7 linked regions of the Homo sapiens genome follow. The protein of the gene in region 4 purifies or fractionates together with the protein of the main gene of each other region. This does not show direct contact. Each region holds a gene or a part of one and is shown on either strand. Other genes may lie near its edges.

Region 1 (3,500 bases), on a different chromosome or scaffold from region 4:
TACTAAAAATACAAAAATTAGCTGGGCGTGGTGGGCACCCCTGTAATTGCAGCTATTTGGGAGGCTGAGGCACCAGAATCGCTTGAACCCAGAAGGCGAAGGTTGTAGTGAGCTGAGATTGCACCACTAGACTTCAGCCAGGGTGACAGAGCAAGACCCTGTCTCAAAACAAACAACCAAAAAACTACCATAATCATTTATGAAAAAAAATTATGAATTTAGTTATGGAAAACTGCATGGGTTTTTAAAAACTAAGTTCTCTAAGAGTATTCAAACTCTCAGAATGCGGAATACAAAAAATTCAAAGCTGCTCTACAAAGTTCCTTCAATATGAAAAAGTTTACTTTCTAGAAGCAAAAAGAGCATTTAATTTTACTTTCAATTCCCTTAAAACCAGATTAGCTAAAAAAAAAATAGATAAATAGCTACAATTAAATTACTGAGCATATAATAAATACAGAGTAATGGTGGCAGGTATATTAAGGGAACGCCTTTCAGTAGTTGCTTCTAAACTCATTGTTCTCAAGACCCATTTTATACTCTTGAAAATTATCAAAGACCTAAAGAGCTTTTATTTTTGTGGATATATTTACTGATATTTGCCACATTAGAAATTAAAACTTAGCAAATTTTAAAATATTATTTTCTCTTTAAAAACACCACCCTTTATATGCAGCATGTATGACATTTTTATGAAAAACATTTTTTTTATAAAAACAAAACAGTAAGAAGAATGGCCTTCTTTCACATTTTTGTAAATCTCTTTTAAGTCTTGTTTTTGTAGAGATGGGGTCTTGCTATGTTGCCCAGGCTGGTCTTAAACTCCCGGCTTCAAGTGATCCTCTCACCTCAGCCTCATAAGTGCTGGGATTACACCCCTGAGCCACTGTGTCTGGCCTAAAGTCTATTTCAATAGAAGACAACTGGATTCCACATCTGTTTTTGCATTCTGTGTGTCGTGATATGTTGCTTTGATACATATCACAATATGTATCAAAATAGATCAAATATACATATCACAACATACATATATGAAGGAAATCAAATCTCACACAGATATGAGGTTGAAAGAGGAGGGGCATTTTAATAGCCTTTTCTGATAAATGTGAATAGTCTTATTTGACACTACATCAGAACTAGAAAGTAAGTGGTCTCTTAAAAGCTATGTGTTAACAAAACCTATAACGATGAACTTCTCATGCTTTTGTTGCACTAAAATTCATTGACCTTGTACTTTAAATGGGTCTTTTATCCATGCATGATTCTGTAATATCATGCATTAGCCATTTGGAAAACAGTGGATCCCTGGGTTATACATTCCAAATGTTTATACACTTTTTCAGCATATTGAAAAATCGTGTTTGTTAACATCAACATCGATCTCATCAGAAAAGTCTCTAAGTATTGAAAAGCCATCAAACTCAAAGCAGATCCAAATTTCCAAACTCTAATTTTTGCTTGAAAACTTGAATTTTATTATTGGCAAGAAATACTGACAGTTCTTTTCCTTGAAATGATAGGCTTCCTTCATTCACTTTCAGGAAAATGTCTGCCAAACACCTAAGTCTGAATAACCACAGTTTGTCTGTCAGTCATTTAAGTAAAAATGGTGTCCCCTCAAATAACAGGGCTAGTTCAATGTGCACTCAAATAATCACATGAGCACTTTTCCCTGAGAAGTAACCACATTATTTCTGTGTGCAGCAAATGAGTTTTATGTACACTTCCCATTTTATCACATAAAATATTAAAAAGAAATGTAGTCAAGGATGGAAATTAAATATAATTAATAAATTTTATTGCTTCATCATGTAAGTGTAACTGACAGTTTTCCCTTTACGTAAGTGTAGTGGTAAAGAATACAATGACGGCCTGGGCATGGTGGCTCATGCCTGTAATCTCAGCACTTTGGGAGGCCGAGGCGAGTGGACCACCTGAGGTCAGGAGTTCGAGATCAGCCTGACCAACATGGTGGTCACGCTAAAAATACAAAATTAGCCAGGCATGGTGGCGCATGCCTGTAATCCCAGCTACTTGGGAGGCTGAGGCAGGAGAGTCACTTGAACCTGGGAGGCAGAGGTTGCAGTGAGTCAAGATCACACCACTGCACTCCAGCCTGGGCTTTAACAGCAAAATGCTGTCTTCAAAAAAAAAAAAAAAAAAAAAAAAAAAGATATATTTTGGTGCCACTACTTTGATGTATAGTTTTATGCATTATTATTTTGGGACCATCATTGCAAATATTAACACAGTGAAATAGGCAAATAACAGATGGTACAATTTTGGTAATATATTTACATTTAGAGGCCTCCTACAAGGGTCTCAGGAGCCCTAGGGGTCTTTGTCCACACCCAAGAACAGCCTGTGCATTTTAGAATTTGCTGCTAATAACCAACATAAATCACCAACCAAAGTTCTGTCAAATATCTTATTCTGTGGGCTACCGAGAAAATTTCCAAACCCACATAAAAGCAATGGCACATTATGACAGTGGTTGATCTTTTAACCATTACACTTTAGAACCTGGAAGTACTAATAAATATCTCATACATTCCATACCAAAATCTGCTAGCTTTAATTCTCCTTTCTCATTAATGAGGAGGTTCTGTGGTTTCAAGTCTCGATGCAATACCTTTCTTCTATGGCAATATGCCAAACCACGTAGAATTTGGTACAGAAACAGCTACAGAAACAAATAAATAAAAATTAGTCTTAAAGATGAGACATGCTTTAGTATAAGCATAAATGATGGTAAGCAGAAAAGCAGCTGGCCTAGAACATTGTAACAGGAAAAAGAAAGTAATTGCATACTTAAGTACAATGTCTTTTTCCTTTTATATATAGTGGCTTTCTGAATTTAATAGTTTATTATTCTATTTGAAGCATCTACCTATTTCTTTTAGTCTAACAGTATCTATGGAAATATTTTTTAAAAAGTAACTTCCTCCTAGCAGTAACAGTTGATTTACTGTGGAAAATGACTTAAAAAAAAAAACATATCCTCATAAACTTACAGGCCTACTAAGGTTTACATAGTTTAATTATAAAATTCTGGCAAAACAACCAACCAACCCCCCTCCCACCCATCTCTCCTTGAAAAAAAACAAAAACAAAAACTCTGATCTGGGGCAGTGTCTTTAAAATAAGGCACTGGAATTGGCGATTTTATGAAAAGTCTGAGGTATCAAAGAGAAAGCTGCTGCATAGCTCTGGCAAATTACTTACTATAAAACTAACCTAAACCAGCTTCTATCACCCATCTCTTGGGTACTTTACTTTCAGCACCTCCTACTTAGCCTTCAAAATCTACTGTGATTCACAAAGGGGCATTAGCACCGTAGTGTTCTGAATGACTCTGAAAAAAGTAATTCCTATAAGGCTAATGGTAGAGTTTTTGCTGTACATTTTGGTAGAAAGAGGGTTACGGAACACATAAGACCTTTGATTCTCTGGGGTTAACAAAAAGAACCTCAAGTACAGAGGATTCAAGAGTTTCCCCT
Region 2 (4,300 bases), on a different chromosome or scaffold from region 4:
TGGCCCGTGTCCAGGACCGAAAGGCAATGAGAGAGGAAGCCCAACAGGAACTCCACCTCCTTCCCTGTGGCAGAGAGCAGCGGGTGGGTGGGGGGTGGTTCTTTGGAACTCAGGGGCACAGTGGTGAGCTTAGGAGCCAAGAGGCTGCGGCACACACAATACAGGCTCCCTTGAACAGGGAGCAGGAAGGAGCATGCCAAGGAGGGGATCACCTGCCAGGACAGCCCTGACGCTGCCCAAGAGGCTGGTTGTCCACTGTCTAGTCTGCCTCGTTGCCCATAGAAGGCTCTCATCTTGCTGGGACAGATGAACCCAATACCTCCAAGGCCAGAGGCAAACATCCCAGTGCCTGCTGGGAAAGCCTCACCCTGGGAGGCAGACCAGCCTGGAGTGGCGTCCTGCTCACCTCTTCTTGTAGTCCTCCACCACTTCGCGCACGCTCCTCAGCTCCGAGTCCAGCCTCACCCTGTCCCCAGACAGCGTCTCCAGCTGCTTCCGCAGGTTGCTGATGTAGCCCTCAAGGATGGGCTCCAGGTTATTCTTGCAGTTGTTCAGGTCCAGCTGCTGTAGCAGCTCCCACTTGGTCTCCAGCACCTGGTTCTGCTGCTCCAGGAACCGCACCTGGAACCCATGCCACACATACTTAAGCAATGTGGAGAGGGGATGTGAGAATTCCCTTCCTGGACAGGAACTGTGTTTTCTTATGCTACATTAGCTTTAAAAATGAGCCTCAGCCCTTAAAAACTGCCACCCATGCCACTCACACCCCCACTCCTTACCTAGGGTCCTTTATCTGACTGAAGTTCTCACTCTGAGGCAGCCCTTAAGGTTGGGAGGGGCACCAATGTCTTCATTTCCCTCTCAAACTATCAAGATCTAGATCTCCTGTCTCCTCTGCACTTATCCAAACCTGCCTGGACCGATGTCCATGTTCAGTCCAGGCCACCTCTCCAAGGCAGCCCCTTAGACACAAGCTGGCCTGTGCTAGCCTTCACACTGTCAGGCCTTCTGCTCGGGGTCTGGTGGCCCGTGCTCTGCCTAGTCTCTCCCTCCTTGTGCGTGGGCTCTCCCAGCCCAGCCAGAGGCAGATGTTCAGCTTATCTGGGGTCTCCGGCCCTCCTAAGTTGCTTTCATGTCTGAATCTCTACTATCTCAATCACAGCATTGTCCCAGCAGCAGAACAAGCATTCTCAAGTTGCAACCTACAAATATATCATTCCCTTGCTTAAAACCCTCAGGTGGTTCCACATCACCCTCAGGGTCAAGTCCATATTCCTTATCACACTCTTCATAATGTGCCCAGCCCTCCTGGCTTCCTTCTTTACTCATACAGTGATGTCGTAAACCGAAGGTCTCCCATTCCCCAGACAAGTTCTACCATGCTGCACGTGCTGTCTCCCTAGATTGCCTTTTCCCCACCTCCATCTGAAAACTCCTACTCATGCCTCACCACCCTACCTCACTGTCGCTCCGGGTGAGCTTCCCCTGCTCCTCTAAGCTTAGGAAGTCTCTGCTTCCCAATACCTTCCTACCACTTTGTTCCTCAGTGATTCTCAAACCTGAGTGTACATCAGCATCACCTGGAGAGCTTGTTAAAATGCAGGGTGCTGGGCCCTGCTGCAGAGTCTCTGATTCAGTTGCTCTGGGGTGGAGCCTGAGAGTGTGCATTCTAACAAGCGTCCAGGTGACGTTGCTGCTGCTGGTTCCAGGGCCACCTTTGAGAACCACTGCTCTAGGGCACCGTGACCTCCAGCTGCCTTGCCTCATAGGCTGTGTGTGTTACGGACTGAGTCTGAGCTTTCAGGGGACACAGGAGGAACAGCTGGGTCGCATGGCAGTCTAGATGCCCCAGGCTGTCAAGGGCATCTCCTTCGCCTAGCTTCTAAGTCTCACAGGCTGTCACTCTGCTACTTCTCAACTCAGAGACCGCTCTCATTGCTTCCTGGACACCTTCCTGGGCTAGGCTGCTGGCTCCTCTCACCCCTCCAACCCTGGTCCCTTGCCTCTGATGTCCAGGCTTTGTCCAGTTCCTCCCTGGGCTATGTCTGCATCCTGGGGAGGTGTCCTGCCTTCGTCTGCTTCAGACAGGGAGCACCCCAAGGACAATGAAGGCGGGGGAAGGAAGGGGCTCTACGGCATGAGCAAGCCTTATGGGCCCAGCACCTGGGGAGCTTTCAAGTTGTTTACCTGGTGTCTGATTTTGCTGGGAGAAAATGATTTCTTGCTCTCAGGCAAATTGAACCACAAATTAGGGCAGTGGCTCCCTCCTGAGTCCTTAAAAGGGGAGCCCAAGATCAGCTTTCTCCAGAAAGACCCACCTTGTCAATGAAGGAGGCGAACTTGTTGTTCAGCACCTTGATCTGCTCCCGCTCCTGGGCACGCACTTTCTGGATTTCAGGGTCCAGCTCCACGTTCAGGGGTGCCAGGAGGCTCTTGTTGATGGTGACCTGATGGATACCCCCGGGCGGGCACAACGACGGACACACGGACCCCAAGGCCACACTGCCAAACATGCTGCCAGCAAAGCCACTGGCCCGGCCCCGGCCAAATCCATAGCCTCCTGCCCACCCACTGCCACTGGCCACATTGAAAGAGATGCTCCGGGCACCCCCCAGGCTGTAAAGGCTCCGACTGCTGAAGCCTCCACTGAGCCCTTTGCCCCCTGCTCGGTAGGAGGATGAGCTGCCCCCTGAGAGCACAGCGGAGCAGCCGCTGAAGCCCCCCTTGGCAGCAGCTCCCGACTTGTAGGTGAATTGGCGGCTCATGGTGGGGAGGCCAGAAAGTGGGGATAAGATGCTGACCCTTAGCTGAGATGCAGTTCACCAGCCTGTGATCCTGGGCTCCCACTTTATAGGACTCAAGAGGGAGCCATGGGCCTAATTTGTGGGTTCAGTTTGCCTGGAAGCAAGAAATCATTTTCTCCCAGCAAAATCAGACACCAGGTAAATGACTTGAAAACTCCCAAAGTGCTAGTCTTGCAAGTCTTGCTCATGTAATTTGAGTTTTATCTAATGAACATGTGTAATTAGCATGGGCACATTATCCATAGAAAGATCTTAGGTGGGAGGTTTGTCGCAGTCTCAATTGCTGTTCCCCAGGGAGTGGTGGGGCCTGGGATTGTAGGGGTACAGAGGGGAGACCTTTAATTGACAGTGTCATCTGTTAGAAATCTCACAACCATGCCAGCATCAGATGGGCTGCTTCAGGGACCCTGGCTGAGCTGCTTTTATGTGGTTAAGAAGAGGCTGCTGCTGCCTGGCTTCCCAGAGTTCCTGGAGACAGGTTTGATGGCTGGCCAGGGCCATAGGAGAGGAGCACACTGGGAATCCAGGACCAGCCTCTGGCTGCCAGCCCCCTGCTGTGCCCTCCCAGGCAGCTCTCCTGCTCCTCTGTGCCAGCCGGGCTGCCCTGCTCACCTTCCTTTGCACACACTGACTTCTTTTTCCCTTTACCATCCCACTACCCTGACTCTTGACCTTGAAATTATGGTCATTGCACCATTCACGATGGCTGACACTGGTGCAGCACTTTACAGTGTAACAGAGCTCCTCACACAAGAAGCTCATTTAATCCACTTAGTCTGCATGGAGGGGAATGGTGATGATCCACATTACACAAATGGGGAAACCAAGGTTCAGATAATTGAGGATGTCATTCCTTTAGCAAACATTTAGTGAGTCCTTTCTTTGTGTGAATCCCAGAGAATGAAAATGCCCCCAAAAAGCACAGGCCCCAGCCTTGAGGACTCCCTTGGCTGGTCTTCTGACTCCACATTCAGAGCTATGCCCGCCTTATTCATTCGTCCATCTATCCGTCCAACCAGCCAGCCAGCCATCTACTTGTTCATTCATTTATCCATTCGTTTAACAGACTTCTCTTGAGGGCTGACTCTCTCCCAGGTACTGTGCTAGGCTCTTGGGTCCCGAATTATGAAGACCAAACCTAGCTCACAATTTTGGAGATGGGGAGGTAGGGGAAGACATTTGAATTTCATGGATCCTTGACATTGCCAAAGTATGTGACCCAAGAGTTTCCCAAATCCCAAATCCCAAATATATCCATAGTATAGAATTTCCTCCATAAAAACACAAGTATTTCACTAGCTGGAGTACTTGAATGAACAGTTGGCCCATCCTTCTTTTCTATTTCTGTATAGAGGTTATGATATGCCTCTAAAATTGTTGTACTAAGCAATTGCCAAATTCAACCTCCCCTCTGTTTTATACAATATGGTTGTTTTCTAGTTAAGAATAATCATTTTCTTTGATGTCTTCAATTTCACTAAAGGCAATGCCACTTG
Region 3 (3,500 bases), on a different chromosome or scaffold from region 4:
GGCGCGGTGGCCTATGCCTGTAATCCCAGCATTTTGGGAGGCCGAGACGGGCAGATCACGAGGTCAGGAGTTCAAGACCAGCCTGGCCAATATGGTGAAACCCCGTCTCTACTAAAACAAAAAACAAAAATTAGCCAGGCATGGTGGCACATGCCTGTAATCCCAGCTACTCAGGAGGCTGAGGCAGGAGAATCGCTTGAAACCAGAAGGCAGAGGTTGCAGTGAGCTGAGATCGTGCCACCGCACTCCAGCCTGGGCAACAGAGCGAGAGCCTGTCTCAAAATAAATAAATAAATAAAAATAAAAATTGCAATGGCAACTCAAGGGAGAGTTGAAGCCTTCTTGTTGTTCTACAGATTTGGGTGTGTACACTTGTATGTGCACACAGAGATTGTTTACATTGTTACACATTTTCACTTTTAATCTCTAAAATTGCCATCTCATTTTAAGATGAAAATAGAAGCTCAGTTTTTCATGATCCTGGTTTCTGTCAAATTCTTGATTTAGTAGGGGCCAAGATTACCAACATAGATAACTAAAGTATTCTACATATGATGCATTCCTTTTTAAAAATTTGTTTTAGAGGACAGAGGTTTAATCATTCTTTATGAGGCTGAGTGCAGTGGCTTACGCCTGTAATCCCAGCACTTTGGTAGGCCAAGTCAGGCAGATCAATTGAGGTCATGTTGAAACCCTGTCTCTACTAAAAATATAGAAATTTAGCCAGGTGTGGTGGTACGTGCCTATAATCCCAGCTACTGGGGAGGCTAAGGCATGAAAATCACTTGAACCCAGGAGGTGGAGGTTGCAGTGTGCCAAGATCACGCCATTGTACTCCAGCTTTGGCTAGTTATGTGGTACTGCTATGCTATTAATTTTTTTAAAAATTATTGTGATTAGGAATGGGATCTCACTATGTTGCCCAGGCTAGCTGGGCTCAAGCAATCCTCCTGCCTCAGCCTCCTGAGTAGTGGGACTATAGGTGTGCACCACTACGCTCTATTTTTATCATAGAATAAGCCAAAGGCAGCCTTTTATAACACTGTTTAGAGCTGAGTTAGGGATAATGAAAGCTTTAAATTGGGGGTAATTATGTACAGTACATGGCAAAGGCATAATAATGAGCTCTTACAAGTCAGTGATACCTAGGCAGGACCCCCAGTGGAGATGAAGTTTAGCTATTATCAGTTTACTTTTAAAAGTTTAACATCACTAAATGCAGTCAATACAATTTAAACTTAATCAATACCTCTTTTCATTACAAATCAGAAAGAAAAAAAAACGTTATAAGCAATCATTCCTCAGTATGATCATGGAAATGGGTTCCTTCATTACTCCTATGAGTATAAATTAGCAGGACTCTTTGGCATTTTGCATCTAGATCCTCAAAAATGTTATCCTTGACTCTTTATTTTTACACTCATAATTCATGAGTATAAAAGAATCATATGAAAGCTTATACACAAGCATGTTCCTCCAGCATTATTTTCCATCACAAAAAATAGGGGAATGGTTAACCATAGAATGAACACCCATTGGACAGATCCTAACTGGATATCATATAATATAGTATTACCTTTTGTAAGCCTCAATTTCCTCATCTTATGGAGTGAAAATTAATTGAGATAAAGCCTATAAAGTGTTTTTCACACCTGCCTGGCACGGAGTAAGCACTCACATAATAGCTATTAACTTTGATTCCTGAATGAATGCCATAGAAACCATTTGAGGCTCCCTCATTGTTACCAGTGCTCATTTTAACAATCCTGTTGTCCAAGAGTGCCAGGTTTTCTTCTCTCTATGCTTAGCAACAGTCCCAGTGGGTTCCGGCTAGCTTTCTGCATTTCGTAAAGTGGTCACAATAAATACAAAAGCCATGCTATGTTCCACATAGAAGTCGAAGTAGAAAGACTCCCATGCCATCCCATTCATTACCACATTTTACCACGTAAGTAATAAAAATCCACAGTGTCGGGGTGGGAGTGCCAAGGCTTCATAGGTTCCATTTGAAAACTTTACTCTGCAAAAGGAGATCAGCCCCAGGAACTAGTACCTAAGACAGACACTGGCCTCTTATATTTCATATCCTTTAGGTATTTGTCTGATACTTCTTCACTCTTAACTGCAGCCCTGCCATTTCAGCAGGCATTAAACTAGATTCCTGTTACATGTTTATATGCAGGAAATAGATTTTAAATGATGATAGGTGATTTTTTTTTTAATTCTTTGTGGTTTTTTTAATCAAGTTTTTTTGTTTTTTGTTTTTTGTTTTTTGTTTTTTTTGAGACAGAGTCTTACTCTGTTGCCAGGGTAGAGTGCAGTGGTGCGACCTTGGCTCACTGCAACCTCCACCTCTCAGGTTCAAGCAGTTCTCCTGCCTGAGTCTCCCAAGTAGCTGGGACTACAAGTGCGTGCCACCACACCCAGCTAATTTTTTGTATTTTTAGTAGAAACAGGGTTTCACCATGTTGGCCAGGATGGTCTCAATCTCTTGACCTCGTGATCCGTCCACCTCGGCCTCCCAATGTGCTGGGATTACAGGTGTGAGCCACCATGCCTGGCCACTTTAATCAAGTTTTCTACAATCAATATGTATTTCTCTTAAAATGAGGGATACAGCTCCTGATGTAAAGAGTTTTTCCTAGCCTTGCAATTACTATGGTTGCAAGAATAAGCAGAGTTTTTGGGTTGTGGTGAAGTATCTAAGCTAGAGTTTGACTAGAAATGAAGGCAGGTAAATTTGTAATCAGAAAGTCACAATGATTTGATTTGATTGTGAAAGTCACAATCCCCTGTGTTAAGTTCATGGACTCAAAGTAGCTTTCCCATATTTGTACGTCATTTTAAACATAAATTATGCTCTAAGGACCTTACATTCAAAAAGGGACGAAAGCATTTTTATGAATGATAGTGGTTATAGGAAATGTTTATTTCTTTTTTGTTTGTTTATAGTAAATCTGATATGTCTCGCTTGCGATTAGCTGCTGGTAGTGCCATAATGAAGCTTGCTCAGGAACCTTGTTACCATGAAATTATTACCCCAGAACAGTTTCAGCTCTGTGCACTTGTTATTAATGTAAGTAACAATCTTATTTTTGTCAATTACTTATCTTCAAAGTTGAATACATTACTTTTCTATGGATACAAATCCATTTATAATGTGAATATATGCACAAAAGTCACTACTATTATTACCTGTTTAACTGTCTTCCAATTATTACATTATTTATTCTCCCATATAATTATCTTCTTTTTAATTGAAGACACTAAAAATACTTAAACTGCTGTTTTTTATTTAATAAATGGTTGCCAATTTAAGTTTTTCTGTGCTGCTGTAGGATGAGTGTTACCAAGTAAGGCAGATATTTGCTCAGAAGCTGCATAAGGCACTTGTGAAGTTACTGCTCCCATTGGAGTATATGGCGATCTTTGCCTTGTGTGCCAAAGATCCTGTGAAGGAGAGAAGAGCACACGCACGACAATGTTTACTGAAAAATATC
Region 4 (3,400 bases):
TTTATTTTGCCAATTATACCATGCATATGAAAAAAACGTACTTTCGCTTTTAGAATTTTTGTCACAGAACTCTTAAATAAAGTCAGTTGACATATCTTTTTTTTTTTTTTTTTTTTTTTTTGAGACAGAGTCTTTCTCTGTCACCCAGACTGGAGTGCAGTGGTGCGATCTCAGCTCACTGCAGCCTCTGCCTCCCGGGTTCCAGCGATTCTCCTGCCTCAGGCGCACACCACCATGCCCGGGGAATTTATGTATTTTTAGTAGAGATGGGGTTTCACCATGTTGGTCAGGCTGGTCTCGAACTCCTGACCTCAGGTGATCCGCCCACCTCGGCCTCCCAAAGTGTTGGGATTACAGGCGTGAGCCACTGCGCCTGGCCTTTTTTTTTTTTCTTTTTTTTTCTTTTTTTTTTGAGACAGGGTCTCACTGTGTTGCCCAGGCTGGAGTGCAATGGCGTTAATATCGCTCATTACCTCAAACTTCTGGGCTCAAGCAATCCTTCCTCCTCAGCTCCTCAAGTAACTGGGACTATAGGTGTACACCACCAAGCTTGGCTAATTTTTCATTTTTCATAGAGATAGGGTCTCCCAATGTTACCCAAGCTGGTCTGAAACTCTTAAGCTCAAGCGATCTTCTTGCCTTGGCCTCCGAAAGTGCTGGGATTATAGGCGTGAGCCACTGTGCCCCGCCAATTTATATATCTTCTTACATGATACATCTTATTATCAATTGACAGCTGTTCTTTTACTTGAATTTTACTCTTTGGGAGGCTAGGTCACAAGGCTTGGTGTGGTAGTGTCTAAGTTCTCTCTGCTGTTTGGTGCTTAACTACACAGGGTTCAACAAGAGAATCATAGGTAGTCCTAGTTCTTCTGGATTTGATAGATTGTTGCTTGTAGCACAGTTTATTTCTTATTTCCGAACATCTTTCCCTGACTGACAGTATGTCTGTTTGGGCTCTTGAGCTCATAACAGGGACAGCTGGGCAGGGCTTTGATGCAGGGTTGTGTGAGATGTGGCCAGCACTGTAAAGGGGCACTTTGTTTTAAGTGTCTCCTTTTCCATCCCCTTTCAGTGTTGTTACTTGAAGGACTCTTACCTGTGCAACGTCTTTGAAAGATCGTATGGGACCTTTGGCACTTGATTTAGTCTGGTCTCAGGGCCAGAATCATCTTGCATTTACCAGCTGCTTTAGTGTTGCTGGTACTGTGAGAGTGGTTAGGGCTTTGATTGAATTTCCAGAAGGTAAGAATATTCTTGTACAGCTTTTACATAAGTAATGTCATCATGTACAAGATGTGTTCTTCTAAAGAAGCAGAGGTTTTCTCTTGCCCCTCAGTCATGTCTGTCTGTCTGCTTCTTGTGTTTCAGAACTTAAAGCAGCAGTATTACACAGGATACACAGAGAATGAAGTATTGGAAGTCATGCAGCACATGGCCAAGAATGTGGTGAAAGTAAATGAAAACTTAACTAAATTCATCGTAAGTACTACTGTTTTCTTAAGCTGTGGAAAGCTTTAGGTTCTGGGTTTTGTGTGTATGTTGGGCGGGGGGGGGCGGTGTGTGCCGTCATGTAAATATATTAATAACATGTGGGAGTTTTAGCACAAATCCTTTATCCTTTATATTTTTCTGGTACAGTATGGTATGGAGCATACTGATAAACCCTGAAAGCAAGCTTTATTTGAAACAAGGTCGATAGGCTAGCCATGTCCAGGCCCAGATCCCAGTCAACCAGTCGGTTACTCAATGTATTGAATTACTCTGTGCTTATACTAGCATCCTGGGGAGGGCACTTTGCAAGCAGGGAAGGCTGGTCTGCATGTGATTGGGAAGAGAGAGGGCCCACTTCAAATGGCGGTGTATTATATTGCGTATTCAGGTGATGTTACTCAGAGCCTTTGTCCAGGGTCTTTTGAGGCAATGATGGAAAAACGCCTAATTAGCAAGCATGGTTAAGAGGGAAGAGGCCCATTCAGGGGGCATCCTGAGGGCATGGTGTCTATCTCTGCATGGCCCACCTATGAGGAGGAGCCAAAGGAGACTTAGTGCTGTCCTGTGCTTGTGTGACACCAAACATCAGAGCTCACCAAGTGTGTGGTGGCAAAGAGCAAGGTATTTGAACCTCAGAAGAGTCTCAAGTGTCCTCACAACATGATTTGCTTCATGGAAGTGTAATATGTGTTCAGTCCTGAGAGGACTGTCTGGGATTTGTTAAGCACTAGTTGCCACCCTCTTTTATTGTCTTTTATTGTCTTTTAATTGTTCCTATTGCTGCCAGGCCTGGTGAACCTGTTATGTCCTGATGGCACTTAGGTGTCGTAAACACAGCTCCCCCTCCCATCCCTCTGGTAGCCTACAAGAGGAAGCCTGCTACTTGGACCTTGAAATCATTTGTTCCTATCACCTGTGCTACCAGCTGTGTTTTATTCATTAATGGGGATGGAAGGAAATGGTCAGGCACATGTTATGAGCCCAGAGCTTTCACTGGCTTCAGCGATTGGGCATCATCAATGTGATCATGATTGTAGCCGTGGACCTTTGATAATTGTGAGTTAGACTAGGAATAAGGTATCATTGGGGGTTCCTGACATGTGCTTAATCACAAATGACTTCTGCAGGCCATCAAGAATAAGTATGCAAGCAGCAAACTCCTGAAGATCAGCATGATCCCTCAGCTGAACTCAAAAGCCGTCAAAGACCTTGCCTCCCCACTGATAGGAAGGTCCTAGGCTGCCGTGGCCCCTGGGGATGTGTGCTTCATTGTGCCCTTTTTCTTATTGGTTTAGAACTCTTGATTTTGTACATAGTCCTCTGGTCTATCTCATGAAACCTCTTCTCAGACCAGTTTTCTAAACATATATTGAGGAAAAATAAAGCGATTGGTTTTTCTTAAGGTATCCCATGTGTATTTATTTGTGTATTCTGTACTTAAGAAATCAGTGAAAGCTTGCTTTGACTAATTTCTTTTTGAGCTGTTATGAATAGCATGTAAATTACTGCCATTATGGCTTGGGCAAGACCTTTTTACCATTTTCTCAAATGGAAAAAACTAGAACTTGGCCTCAGTGAACACTAAACCTATTCCTAAGCTTCTTGAATACAAATAAGTTTATTATGAAAATTTTAAATGGGAGGATAACCATGACACTTTCCTTTCTAGAAGCTAGTCAGCTGCTCTCTAATTCCTGCATAGGAACGCCTGGCCCAGAGCAACCCTTGTAATGGGTCCCTCTCTCAAATGCATTGTTGAGACCAGAGAGAGCCATCCCATGGGTCACAGCTGGAGAAAATGGGCCCGTGGCATCCTGTTCAAGGTGAAGCTTGGCATGCATTTTTTCAGGTACATTATGGGGTAAATGGCTTTGCATTTTTTTGTTTGGTTGGTTTTTAATGGGCA
Region 5 (3,500 bases), on a different chromosome or scaffold from region 4:
TTCACCATGATTGTGAGGCCTCCCTAGCTAGGTAGAACTGTAAGTCCATTAAACCTCTTTTTCTTATAAATTGCCCAGTTTCAGGTATGTCTTTATCGGCAGCGTGAAAACAGACTAATACAAGGAGATATTATAATATACCAGATACCCTAGACAAAACGGATCCATGAGGGCAGGAGAAAACAAAAGTTATGTTCCCAGAGATTCAATGATAATGGTGTTGGCAGTGGTGATACTACTACTCAGATCTGTTACTTACTGAGCTCTTGCTATTAATGAATGCCTGGTACCCTACCCTAAGGCTTTTATATATGTATTTTTTCTTATCTAAAGCTTATTACAAGCCTGCATAGTAGATACTGTTATTAATGTCCATTAATGTTCATTTGAAAGTTAAGGATATTGAGGCTCAAAGACCTGCCCAAGATCACCCAGCTAGGTTTGAATCTAGGTTCATGAATGCTTAACCATTGTGCTAAAACTGCCTTTGTTGTGTTTAACTGTGTAAGTGCCTTTTCTCCCGTGCTAGACAATAAGCTCCTGGGGGCAGTATCACATCTCGTTCTTCTTTATATCCTTCAGAATAACGAGCACAGTGTCTATCACATACTAGGGTCCCCAAAATGTTTGCTGAATGAGTAAACTCTGCTGTGCTATAGGCTGCTTGTATCTAAACTATATAGAACCAGAATACTGTGGTTTTTAAAAACAATTTTTTTTTTGAAACAGGGTCTCTCTGTCACCCAGGCTGGAGTGCAGTGGAGTGATCATAGCTCGCTACAACCTCAACCTCCCCGGGCTCAGGTGATCCTCCCACCTCACCCTCCCTAGTAGCTGGGACTACAGGCACACACCACCATACCTGGCTAATTTTTGTATTTTTTGTAGTGACAGAGTTTTTCCATGTTGCCCAGGCTGGTCTCAAACTCCTGGGCTCAATGAATCCTCTTGCCTCAGCCTCTCAAAGTGCTGGAATTAGAGGTGTAAGCCACCACACATGGACTAAAACAATTTTTTGATAAAATTTTTCTTTTATTCTTTGTTTTGAGACAGGGTCTCACTCTGTTGCCCAGGCTGGAGTTCAGTGGCATAATCAGGGCTCACTGCAGCCTGACCTCCCGGCCTTAAGTGATTGTCCTGCCTCAGCACACCCCCTGCACACCCCCTACCCCCGACACACACACACACAAAGTAGCTGGGACTATAGGCATGTGCCAACAAGCTCAGCAACTAATTTTTTTTTTTTTTTTAATTTTAGTAGAGACGATGGCTCACTAAGTTGCCCATACTGGTCTCAAACTCCTGAGCTCAAATGATCCTCCTGCCTCAGCCTCCCAAAGTGCCGGGATTACAGGCTCACGTAAGCCACGGCGCTCGGCCGAGATTTTTCTTTTGGCCATCATTGTTGTTCTCTGTTCTTTCCTGCAATATCAAATCAGCTGTCTTAATTTACACACAAGTCTAAGTCAATGGGCCAAGGAGAAAATTCTGTGAGATCTGAGACAATCCCCCACCTCCAATATCTCTCTCTTTCCCAGAAGTTGATTGGCCTTTTTTTTTTACTCTGAATTTTATCTCTTTCTAGGATGTTCATGGTCTCAAAAAGTCAGGCTCCGTATGAGTTACCATTATAGAATTCAGTTTATAAATGCCAACTACATAACAGGTATAACTAAAACATGTGCTTTAAACCAATATTCACCAAAAAAAGAAACAACAAGCCAAGTCCCTATTCACAAAATAATCTATTGAAAAAAATGTTTCATCATAGCCCCTTGAGTTTATCAACAGCATAAGAAGTTTCAAGGATAAGAGAGATTCACAAATACGTTTGCTGGTGTTTTAAAGAAAATGTTGGAATAAGTGACGGAAGTTATTATACATACACAATTTACCAGAGATTAATTAAATAGCACAGGTAGAAAGGGTTCTTTTCCTTTTAAAATCTATCTTGTTATAAAGACACTACTTTTAGACTTGAACAAACAAAAACGCTGTCCTTTATTGTGAAGGGGAAGGTCTGAGTTAACTGCATAAAATAACACCTTTATGTTTTTAACTTGTAAATAGTTTATTATTTTGTTTCAAGAAGTACTTCACATTTATGCCTAAATGCAAAAAAAAATACTGATTTAATTAAAATACACTGTAGTTATGTATTTTTTCTTTGACCAAGAGAAGCTCTCTCTTTCAACTAAGATTTTGTTTCTGGTAATAGTGATTATCCTAATACAGGATAGAAAAAGTGTATATTCCATTGTATAACCATACATAATTTTGTGGAATTGAACATGAGTCATCACATTAAGATTCCACAAGTATCTATTCAATTCACTCAAGTAAATAATCAAATGTCACATTTTCTGACATAGTTATAAAAGTAATCAGAAAAACACTAAATTCTAATACTGTAATTACATTTAAAACTAAAATTCTATCTCTGAATTAAGACTAATCAATATTAAGAAAGAACAAGCCGGGTGCGGTGGCTCAAGCTTGTAATCCCAGCACTTTGGGAGGCTGAGGCGGGTGAATCACCTGAGGTCAAGAGTTTGAGACCAGACTGGCCAACATGGTAAAACCCCGTCTCTACCAAAAATACAAAAATTAGCCGGGTGTGGTGGCGGGCACCTGTAGTCCCAGCTACCTGGCAGGCTGAGACAGGAGAATCGCTTGAATCTGGGAGGGGGAGGTTGCAGTGAGCCAAGATAGTGCCATTGCACCCCAGCCTGAGTGACAAGAGTAAAATTCCATTTCAAAAAAAAAAAAAGAACATTTTTAGGCCGGGCGCAGGGGCTCATGCCTGTAATCCCCGCACTCTGGGAATACGAGGTGGGCAGATCACTTGAGGTCTGAAGTTCGAGACCAGCCTGGCCAACATGGCAAAACCCCGTCTGCGGTGGTACACACCTATAATCTCACCTACCCGGGTGGCTGAGGCATGAAAATTGCTTGAACCTGGGAGGCAGAGGCTGCAGTGAACCGAGATCATGCCACTGCACTCCAGCCTGGGTGACAGAGCAAGACTCCGTCTCAAAAAAAAAAAAAAAAAAAAAAAAAAAAAGAACATTTTCATCTCCATATTTCTGAAATCTGTAAAAAAAAATCAAAGAACATTTTTGGTAGCAATAATTTATCAAATCAAGCCTTCTTGAGGAAATTAAGGTTTCTAAAGGAGCAATTTTAAATTATGCTTTAGTAAAGAGTCCACCCCAACAAATTAGTAATTAATCTTTTTCTGTGTCAAAACAAACCTAAGAAGGCTTAACTATTTTCAAAAATTTCTAATTTAAGTTACCCCCCAAAAAACCTGTAAGTTAATCACTTGCAATTTCAAAATGATTTATGTGAAAGCTATGTATTTAGTGAAGAAGTATGTCATGTCAGAAAACAGATAAACGAAAGATAAGTCAAGGGTTGCCAAAATCCCAGTTTATAGTTGTAAATTCCTGAGGTTTTAAAGCACAGCTACAGGCTAACTGCCCAAAGACCTGCTACCC
Region 6 (3,500 bases), on a different chromosome or scaffold from region 4:
ATTTATTTTGGCATCATCTCTTTATTAGCATGCATTACAAAAAAACATATTTCTATGTGTTCACCTTAATGTAGCCTTGTGAGGTAGTTTAAAAAATTTTATACACATTTGTTTGTATAGAGGAATAAATTATGTTTCAAACACAATGCAACATCTTGAACACCGCCAAGTTGCTGGGATAATCCACGTTTATCACCTACTTCCTCAATTCTTTGTCCACTGAACTATGATGTCAGAAATCTAAGCTTGATTTGTTTTTAAGTGGATAATCCATTAACTGTTTCCATATGCCATAACTATTCAGTTGAGAAATAATTTATAAACCAATTTATGGGCCCTATCTGGCAAAAATGACACACCTGTTATAAAATATGATTACTTCAGAAAGCTAACAATTGTGGAACCACATTTTCATAATAAATTAGTCTAAGTGAATTAGACTATTCATATACTTTCAGAAAGCCCTTTAATCCCTATTAACAGTTTGTGAATAATGAAAGTAGTTAATATTAATTTTACTTGACAAATCCAACACCAATAACCTGTTAGTATACTCTAATCCATTTTCCAACAGCCTGTAAAAATTAACCAACAGATGCTTCCAATCTGGTAAAAAAAAAAAAAAAAATACATAGGTCATTAGCATTATTTTGATGATACCAAATGTTCAATATATGAATATTATGATTAAATTTCAGAGAGATAGATAAACAATCTTTTTTTATAACCTTGTTAAGTCTTAACAGAAGCTGAATTTAGTAAAATGTCAGTCTTTTCTAAAATCAAAATCAGCATTTGTTATTCCACTCCTTGTTATTATGCTTCAACTAAGTACTTGACTGAGTTTCATCAGGAATGTAAAAGCAACATGAGTATGGGAAGCACACCTGCCTTATTCATGCTGGTATCCCCAATGTCAAGCATGAGGCACAACATGCAATATGCACCCAATAAATAGTTATTGAGTGGAACAGTGGTAGCCAATAAGAAAAAGTGGAAGGTATGAAAGAGGAGGTATGAGAAAAAGAAAAAACATAATCTGGAAAAGTGCTTATATACATTTCCAGAATAATTTAAAATACAGAAAGCTAAGATGTCTCCCAAAAACTTACAACAGAGAGAATCAAGAAAACTGAAGTGAGCTACTTAACAGCAAAATAAAGTGTAAAAGAAAATGATGTAAGTGAATCAGGAAAAAATTACTGATTTTTCACAGGAAAAGGATTAGAGAGGATTCCTATTCCTCTACAGATATGGCACAAGGTACTTTCCCACAGAAGCGTTGTTGTAAATGGTCACAAAGATTAGTTTAAAAAGCAGAATAGGTAAGATCTAATTGGAAAAAAAAAAGTAGGAATGTAATAAAAGGCAACAGGAATTAAGAGGAAAGAGCCAAGCCCTTACCAAGAATATCTTGGTAATATGTAAATGTAGGTAGGGTTGGATAGTATCACAAGAAGCCAGAATTGTTTTGCCATCAGGAGACCAGGAGAAAAGATCTCAGCTGAGATACACTAAAGATTAAACAAGATAATATGAAGAGAACCCAGCTGAGGCACTGATATATCACGTATGCACAATATCTGATATAGATATTAGCTCCTTTTCCAACTCTAAGTGTATTAGACCTGTAAATCCCAGTAGTCTAAACATTAGAAGTCCTGAAAACCTAAAGTAGTGTCTACCATAAGAAAAAAGCCCCACTTACTTGACAACAAATAAAGTCTACATGACAGAAAACTTCAAGGATCTCTTTAAATGATTGGATTCAGTTCCTTTGTTCTTACTACCCAATTTGAATGCTTGGGAAGCACAAAGGATTGGCATCTATCATTTAAATGCCTGGGATGGAATGTCCATCTTTGTAATCAAAGAAATAGCCTCGGTTCTCAGTCCAAACAGTTACTACTGCAATGAAAAACAGAGATACACCATTTCTCTAAAAAACCCACTATTCTTCAGTAATTACCATCCTTCCCTACCTAGTTGTGATGAAAATCAGCCAGCAGCCAATGCCTCTACCTCCTGCACTGGCTTGCGAAAGGGTGGAAAGACAAATGGATTTTCACCTTGGAGTGAACAATACATAAGTGACCAGGTTTACTTTTGTTTGGGGGTTTGCCTGTTTTTGTTTTTTTGTTTTTTTGTGTTTTTTTGAGACATAGTCTTACTCTGTTGCCCAGACTGGAGTGCAGTGGCGTGATCCTGGCTCGCTGCAACCTCTGCCTCCCAGGTTCAAGCGATTCTCATGCCTCAGCCTCCGGAGTAGCTGGGACTACAGGTGTGCACCACCATGCCTGGCTATTTTTTTTTTTAATTTTTTTTAGTAGAAATGAGGGTCTCATCATGTTGGCCAGGCTGGTCTCAAACTCCTGGCCTCAAGTGATCAACCCACCTCGACCTCCCAAAATGCTGAGATTACAGGCGGGAGCCATTGCACCCGGCCATAGTTTTGAATTCTGCAGCAATTACAAAATTGATTCAAACAAAGTATGTTGGACTCAGGGAGATACGTGAATGTAACATTTGGACCCAATGCCTCAGCAGCCAGGCCATGAATAAAAGACCACAAGTAGACCTGTCTACTTGACCAGTCCTGTCTAAGCTCTCTGGACATCTTTCTCTTTCCTTCCTTTCTGATCTTTCCTATTAAATGTCTATATAAAATCCTGTTTCTCTGAACGTAGCAATGACTGGCCTTTCCTATAAAATACTCTGAAGTGTTTTACATGTAAATACACATTTTAATTGTCATATATTCTCCTTGATTGCCAGATGACCAGTAATGCCAAAAAGCACTCTTAGGACTCCTCAAATAATGCTTTCTAGGAATTATTCTTTAAAATGAAGTCCCAAAAAAATAGTCACCTTTACAGCTCATCTCTGCTTACCACTGAGAAATGTTAGCAGGGCTCGGAGTCACAACCCTGGGCTTCCCCACTCTTTGTGTTCCCCCTGGAAATGTCATCTACTGTCACAGAAAAAAAAGAAAGCAGCATTTGAGTTGAATTGAGACAGAAGGTATCATAGTCCTCTGCCAGCCTCTAAGTCAAGTAAAGAGATTCCAGGCCAAAGGACCAGCAGTACAAAGGCAGAGAGAGATGGAAATATGGAGTATGCAAAAAATGATCACCTTTTCACCTTAATCTTTCTAACTAGTATTAGATAGAGCAAATACATCATTTTTTTATTCAACCTTGAATCTCAAGGCTAAAGTTAGATGACTTAAGAATTTTTTAAAGGTCCAATTATTTCATTTAGGGCTAACATTGCAGCTAAATTAAAGACATGCTAACAAGTTTCCCTTTTGAGCCTCATTAATTAAGAAAGTAATCAGAGTAAGGAGAAAAAGAGAGTAGCTGTATGGCAGAATTACTTAAATAGTTTTTAGGTACCACCATTTGTACCTACTAGGAAAGCAAAAGGAAAACTAATCAACTCCAGATTATGAAATCTGAAATTCTGAAGTGTTTTACATGTAAACACAAATTTTAACTGCC
Region 7 (3,500 bases), on a different chromosome or scaffold from region 4:
TAGAAGTTTGTCAGTTTTACTGATTTTTTTTTCAGAAAAGCAAATTTTTGTGTTATTAATTTTTCCCTATAGTTTTTCTATTTCAAATTCATTGATTTCAGCTCTTTATTATTCCCTTCCTTCTGCTTGCTTTGGGTTTATTTTGGTCTTCTTTTCTAGATCCTTGATGTAGAAATTTAGGTTATTGACTTAAGACCTTCCTTTATTTCCAATGTAAACATTTAGTGTTAGAAATTTCTCTCTCAGAATTGCTTTATCTACATGGTACATATTTCAATATGTTGTGTTTTCATTTGCATTCAGTTCTACGCATTTTTAAAAAAATTCCTTTTGAGATTTCCTCTTTGATCCACGGATTATTTAGAACAGTGTTGTTTAATTTCCACGTGTTTAGATACTTTTCTGCTACAGATTTCTAGTTTCATTGCATTGTAGTCAGAGAATATACTCTGTATGATTTCAATTATTTTAAATTTGTTTAGGTTTGTTTTACGGCCAAGCACATTATCTATCTTGGTGAATGTTCTGTAGGTGCCAAAAAAAAGTGTGTTCTGCTGTTGTTGGGTGGAGTTTTCTATACAAAGAGATATAATTTAAAACCACTATGGAAAAACCAATATAAAATCGTAAAAATATTCAACTGGATCCTGTTAATTGACTGTCTTTTTCAGATCTTCCCTATATTTACTGATGTTCTGTCTAGTAGATTTATCAATTTCTGAGAGGGGGTATTGAATTTCCCAACTATAATTGTGGATTTGTCTCTTTCTTCTTTTAGCTTGATCAGTTTTTGTTCATGAATTTTGAGACATAGTTGTTTGGTGTGTACCCATTAAGGATCATTGTATCCTCCTGCTGGATTGATCCATTTATCATTAGGTAATGTCTCTGTTTATCTCTTTTAACTTTCTTTGCTCTGAAGACTATTTTATCAGATATTAATGAAGCTTCTCCAGATTTTTGAAAAATTAATACTTATGTGGTACATCTTTTTCTATATTTTTACTTGCAATCTTCCTATGTCATCAAATTTAATGTGAGTTTCTTGTGAATAGCATATAGAGTAGTTCCCCCTTATTCCAGGGAGATATATTCCAAGACCCCCAGTGGATGCCTGAAACCATGGATAGTACTGAACTCTATGTATACTATATATATTTTTCCCCCATACACACAAACCTATGATAAAGTTTAATTTATAAATTAGGCACAGTAAGAGATTAACAATGATAACTACTAATAAATAGAACAATTATACCAATGTACTGGAGTAAAAATTATGTGATTGTGTTCACACACTCACACTCTTTCTCACAAAATATCTTATTATACTGTACTATGGGTAACTGAAACCTCAGAAAGTAAAACCACAGATAAAAGGGGACTACTGTAGTGGTATTCGCATTCAATATAATTATTTAATGTAATTATTGATATATTATTCTTGTTTGCTATTTTATTATTTGTTTTTTGTTTGTTCCCTTTAGTTCTTATTCTTCTGTTTCCCTTTTCTTGCTTTTCTGATAGTTACTTGAGCATTTTTTATGATTCCATCTTGACTTATTCATAGTGTTTTAAAATATATATCTTTGTAGAGTTTTCCCAGTGGTTTCTCTGGGTATTCAACATTCATGTGTGAGTCATAACAGTCTACTCATATCAATATTTTACCACTTTGATTGAAGTGTATAAACCTCACTTCCATTTAGTTTCCTTTACCTTCCCCACTTTTAAATATCATTGTCTAGAGTATAAAATGGTGTTATAATTTTGCTTCAATTATCAAATATGATTTATAGAACTCATGAGTTAAAAGATAGTCTACTTTATGTACTTACATTTCTGCTCTTTCTGTTGTCCTTTCATCCTTCCTGATTGCTCTTTATCATTTATTCTCTGTTTGAAGAAATCCCTTTAGCTATTTTTTAACAGTATGTCTGCTAGCAACAAATCTTTTTGTTTTCCTTCAACTGAGAATTTAATTATTTCCCCTTAATTCCTGAAGGATAGTTTCACCAGATATGGATTCTATTTTCTGTCATCTCTGCTCTTCTATTGAGTCCATCAGCCAGTTTTTCATTTTTGTTATTTTATTTTACAGTTCTATAATTTATATTTGTTTTTTGGGGGGAGGGGACAAACAAGCCAGTTTTATTCAAAAAATAATTCCAAGGGGGAAAAAAGAAAACTGAGAAAGAGCCTATAGATTGTAAGGGTCTTTAGAAAAATAGTAGATAATTGCAAAGTATGTATTTTTTAAATTCTTGTTTTTAACTTAATTTTTATTTTAATTAATTAACAAATAATTATTGCATATATTTATGGGATACAATGTGATATTTTAATATATGCATACACTGTGGAATAATTACATCGAGCTAATTAACATATCCATCACCTCACGTAATTTATCCTTTTTTTTGTTTTTTGTTCTGTTTTGTTTTGTTTTCAGACAGGGTCTCACTCTGTCACCCAGGTTGGAGTGCAGTAGTGTGATCTCGGCTCACGGCAACCTCTGCCTCCCAGGCTTAAGCAATTCTCCCATCTCAGCATCCCGAGTAGCTAGGACCACAGGCACATGCCACCATGCCCAGCTAATTTTGTGTGTGTGTGTGTGTGTGTATTTTTGGTAGAAATAGGGTTTCACCACGTGGCCCAGGCTCTTCTCGAAATCCTGAGCTCAAGTGATCCACCTTCCTTGGCCTCCCAAAGTGGCGGGATTACAGGCATGAGCCACCACATCTGGCCTACCTATCTTTTGTTTCGTTTTGTTTTTTTCATAGCAGGAACATTTAAAATCTATTATTTTTTTGAATACTTTTTTGGGGAACAGGTGATGTTTGGTTACGTGGATAAGTTCATTAGTGGTGATTTCTGAGATTTTGGTGCCCCCATTACCCGAACAGTGTACACTGTACCCAATGTGTAGACTAAAATCTTATGCTTTTAGCAGTTTTGAAATGCACATACATTATTATCAACTATGGTGAGCATGCTGCAAAATAGGTCTTAAAAACTTATTCCTCTTGTCTAACTGGAACTTTGTACCCTTTGGTCAACTTCTCCCCATTTCCCACTCCCTCCAAGCCACAGTCCCTGGTAACCATTCTACTCTAATTCTGAGTTCAACTCTTTTAGATCTCACATATAAGTGAGATTATGTGGTGTTTGTCTTTCTGTGTCTGGCTTGCTTCACTTAGCATAATGTCCCCCAGGTTCATTCATGCTGTAGCAAATGACAGAATTTCCTTCTTTCTTATATTTTTATAACTTCTTTTTCTTTTCTGCAAGTTTCCTTTTTTTTCTTTATTTGTTTTAAGATAATGTTAATTGATTGTTGAGGCATTTTTATGATGGCTACTTTGAAATCCTTGTCAGATAATTCCAACATCGAACTCATCTTAATGTTGGCAGTAGTTGCCTTTTCTCAGTCAAGTTGTGATTTACTTGATTCTTGGTATGACAGATGATTTTTGATTGAACATTTTGTCTACTATGTT

The links.
Region 1: the proteins of CCNB2 (region 4) and CDK17 purify together in Homo sapiens (affinity purification with mass spectrometry; one large-scale study listed by BioGRID and IntAct). This does not show direct contact.
Region 2: the proteins of CCNB2 (region 4) and KRT73 purify together in Homo sapiens (affinity purification with mass spectrometry; one large-scale study listed by BioGRID and IntAct). This does not show direct contact.
Region 3: the proteins of CCNB2 (region 4) and PDS5A purify together in Homo sapiens (affinity purification with mass spectrometry; one large-scale study listed by BioGRID and IntAct). This does not show direct contact.
Region 5: the proteins of CCNB2 (region 4) and SCML2 fractionate together in Homo sapiens (co-fractionation; one study listed by IntAct). This does not show direct contact.
Region 6: the proteins of CCNB2 (region 4) and DIAPH3 fractionate together in Homo sapiens (co-fractionation; one large-scale study listed by BioGRID). This does not show direct contact.
Region 7: the proteins of CCNB2 (region 4) and VSIG1 purify together in Homo sapiens (co-immunoprecipitation; one large-scale study listed by IntAct). This does not show direct contact.

Annotation. Positions count from the first base shown.
Region 1 is NC_000012.12:96,292,440-96,295,939, forward strand, and holds part of CDK17 (cyclin-dependent kinase 17), read right to left. Parts: intron 2,684-3,500; coding exon 2,560-2,683; intron 1-2,559. UniProt on the Homo sapiens protein: May play a role in terminally differentiated neurons. Has a Ser/Thr-phosphorylating activity for histone H1.
Region 2 is NC_000012.12:52,615,760-52,620,059, forward strand, and holds the start of KRT73 (keratin, type II cytoskeletal 73), read right to left. Parts: upstream 2,801-4,300; 5' UTR 2,766-2,800; coding exon 2,319-2,765; intron 622-2,318; coding exon 407-621; intron 1-406. UniProt on the Homo sapiens protein: Has a role in hair formation. Specific component of keratin intermediate filaments in the inner root sheath (IRS) of the hair follicle.
Region 3 is NC_000004.12:39,862,912-39,866,411, reverse strand, and holds part of PDS5A (sister chromatid cohesion protein PDS5 homolog A), read left to right. Parts: intron 1-2,952; coding exon 2,953-3,076; intron 3,077-3,338; coding exon 3,339-3,500. UniProt on the Homo sapiens protein: Probable regulator of sister chromatid cohesion in mitosis which may stabilize cohesin complex association with chromatin. May couple sister chromatid cohesion during mitosis to DNA replication.
Region 4 is NC_000015.10:59,122,146-59,125,545, forward strand, and holds the end of CCNB2 (G2/mitotic-specific cyclin-B2), read left to right. Parts: intron 1-1,371; coding exon 1,372-1,482; intron 1,483-2,621; coding exon 2,622-2,732; 3' UTR 2,733-2,900; downstream 2,901-3,400. UniProt on the Homo sapiens protein: Essential for the control of the cell cycle at the G2/M (mitosis) transition.
Region 5 is NC_000023.11:18,344,689-18,348,188, forward strand, and holds part of SCML2 (sex comb on midleg-like protein 2), read right to left. Parts: intron 1-3,500. UniProt on the Homo sapiens protein: Putative Polycomb group (PcG) protein. PcG proteins act by forming multiprotein complexes, which are required to maintain the transcriptionally repressive state of homeotic genes throughout development.
Region 6 is NC_000013.11:59,964,929-59,968,428, forward strand, and holds part of DIAPH3 (protein diaphanous homolog 3), read right to left. Parts: intron 2,972-3,500; coding exon of another isoform or gene 2,904-2,971; exon of another isoform or gene 2,401-2,903; intron 607-2,400; coding exon of another isoform or gene 467-606; exon of another isoform or gene 1-466. UniProt on the Homo sapiens protein: Actin nucleation and elongation factor required for the assembly of F-actin structures, such as actin cables and stress fibers. Required for cytokinesis, stress fiber formation and transcriptional activation of the serum response factor.
Region 7 is NC_000023.11:108,051,565-108,055,064, reverse strand, and holds part of VSIG1 (V-set and immunoglobulin domain-containing protein 1 isoform 2 precursor), read right to left. Parts: intron 1-3,500.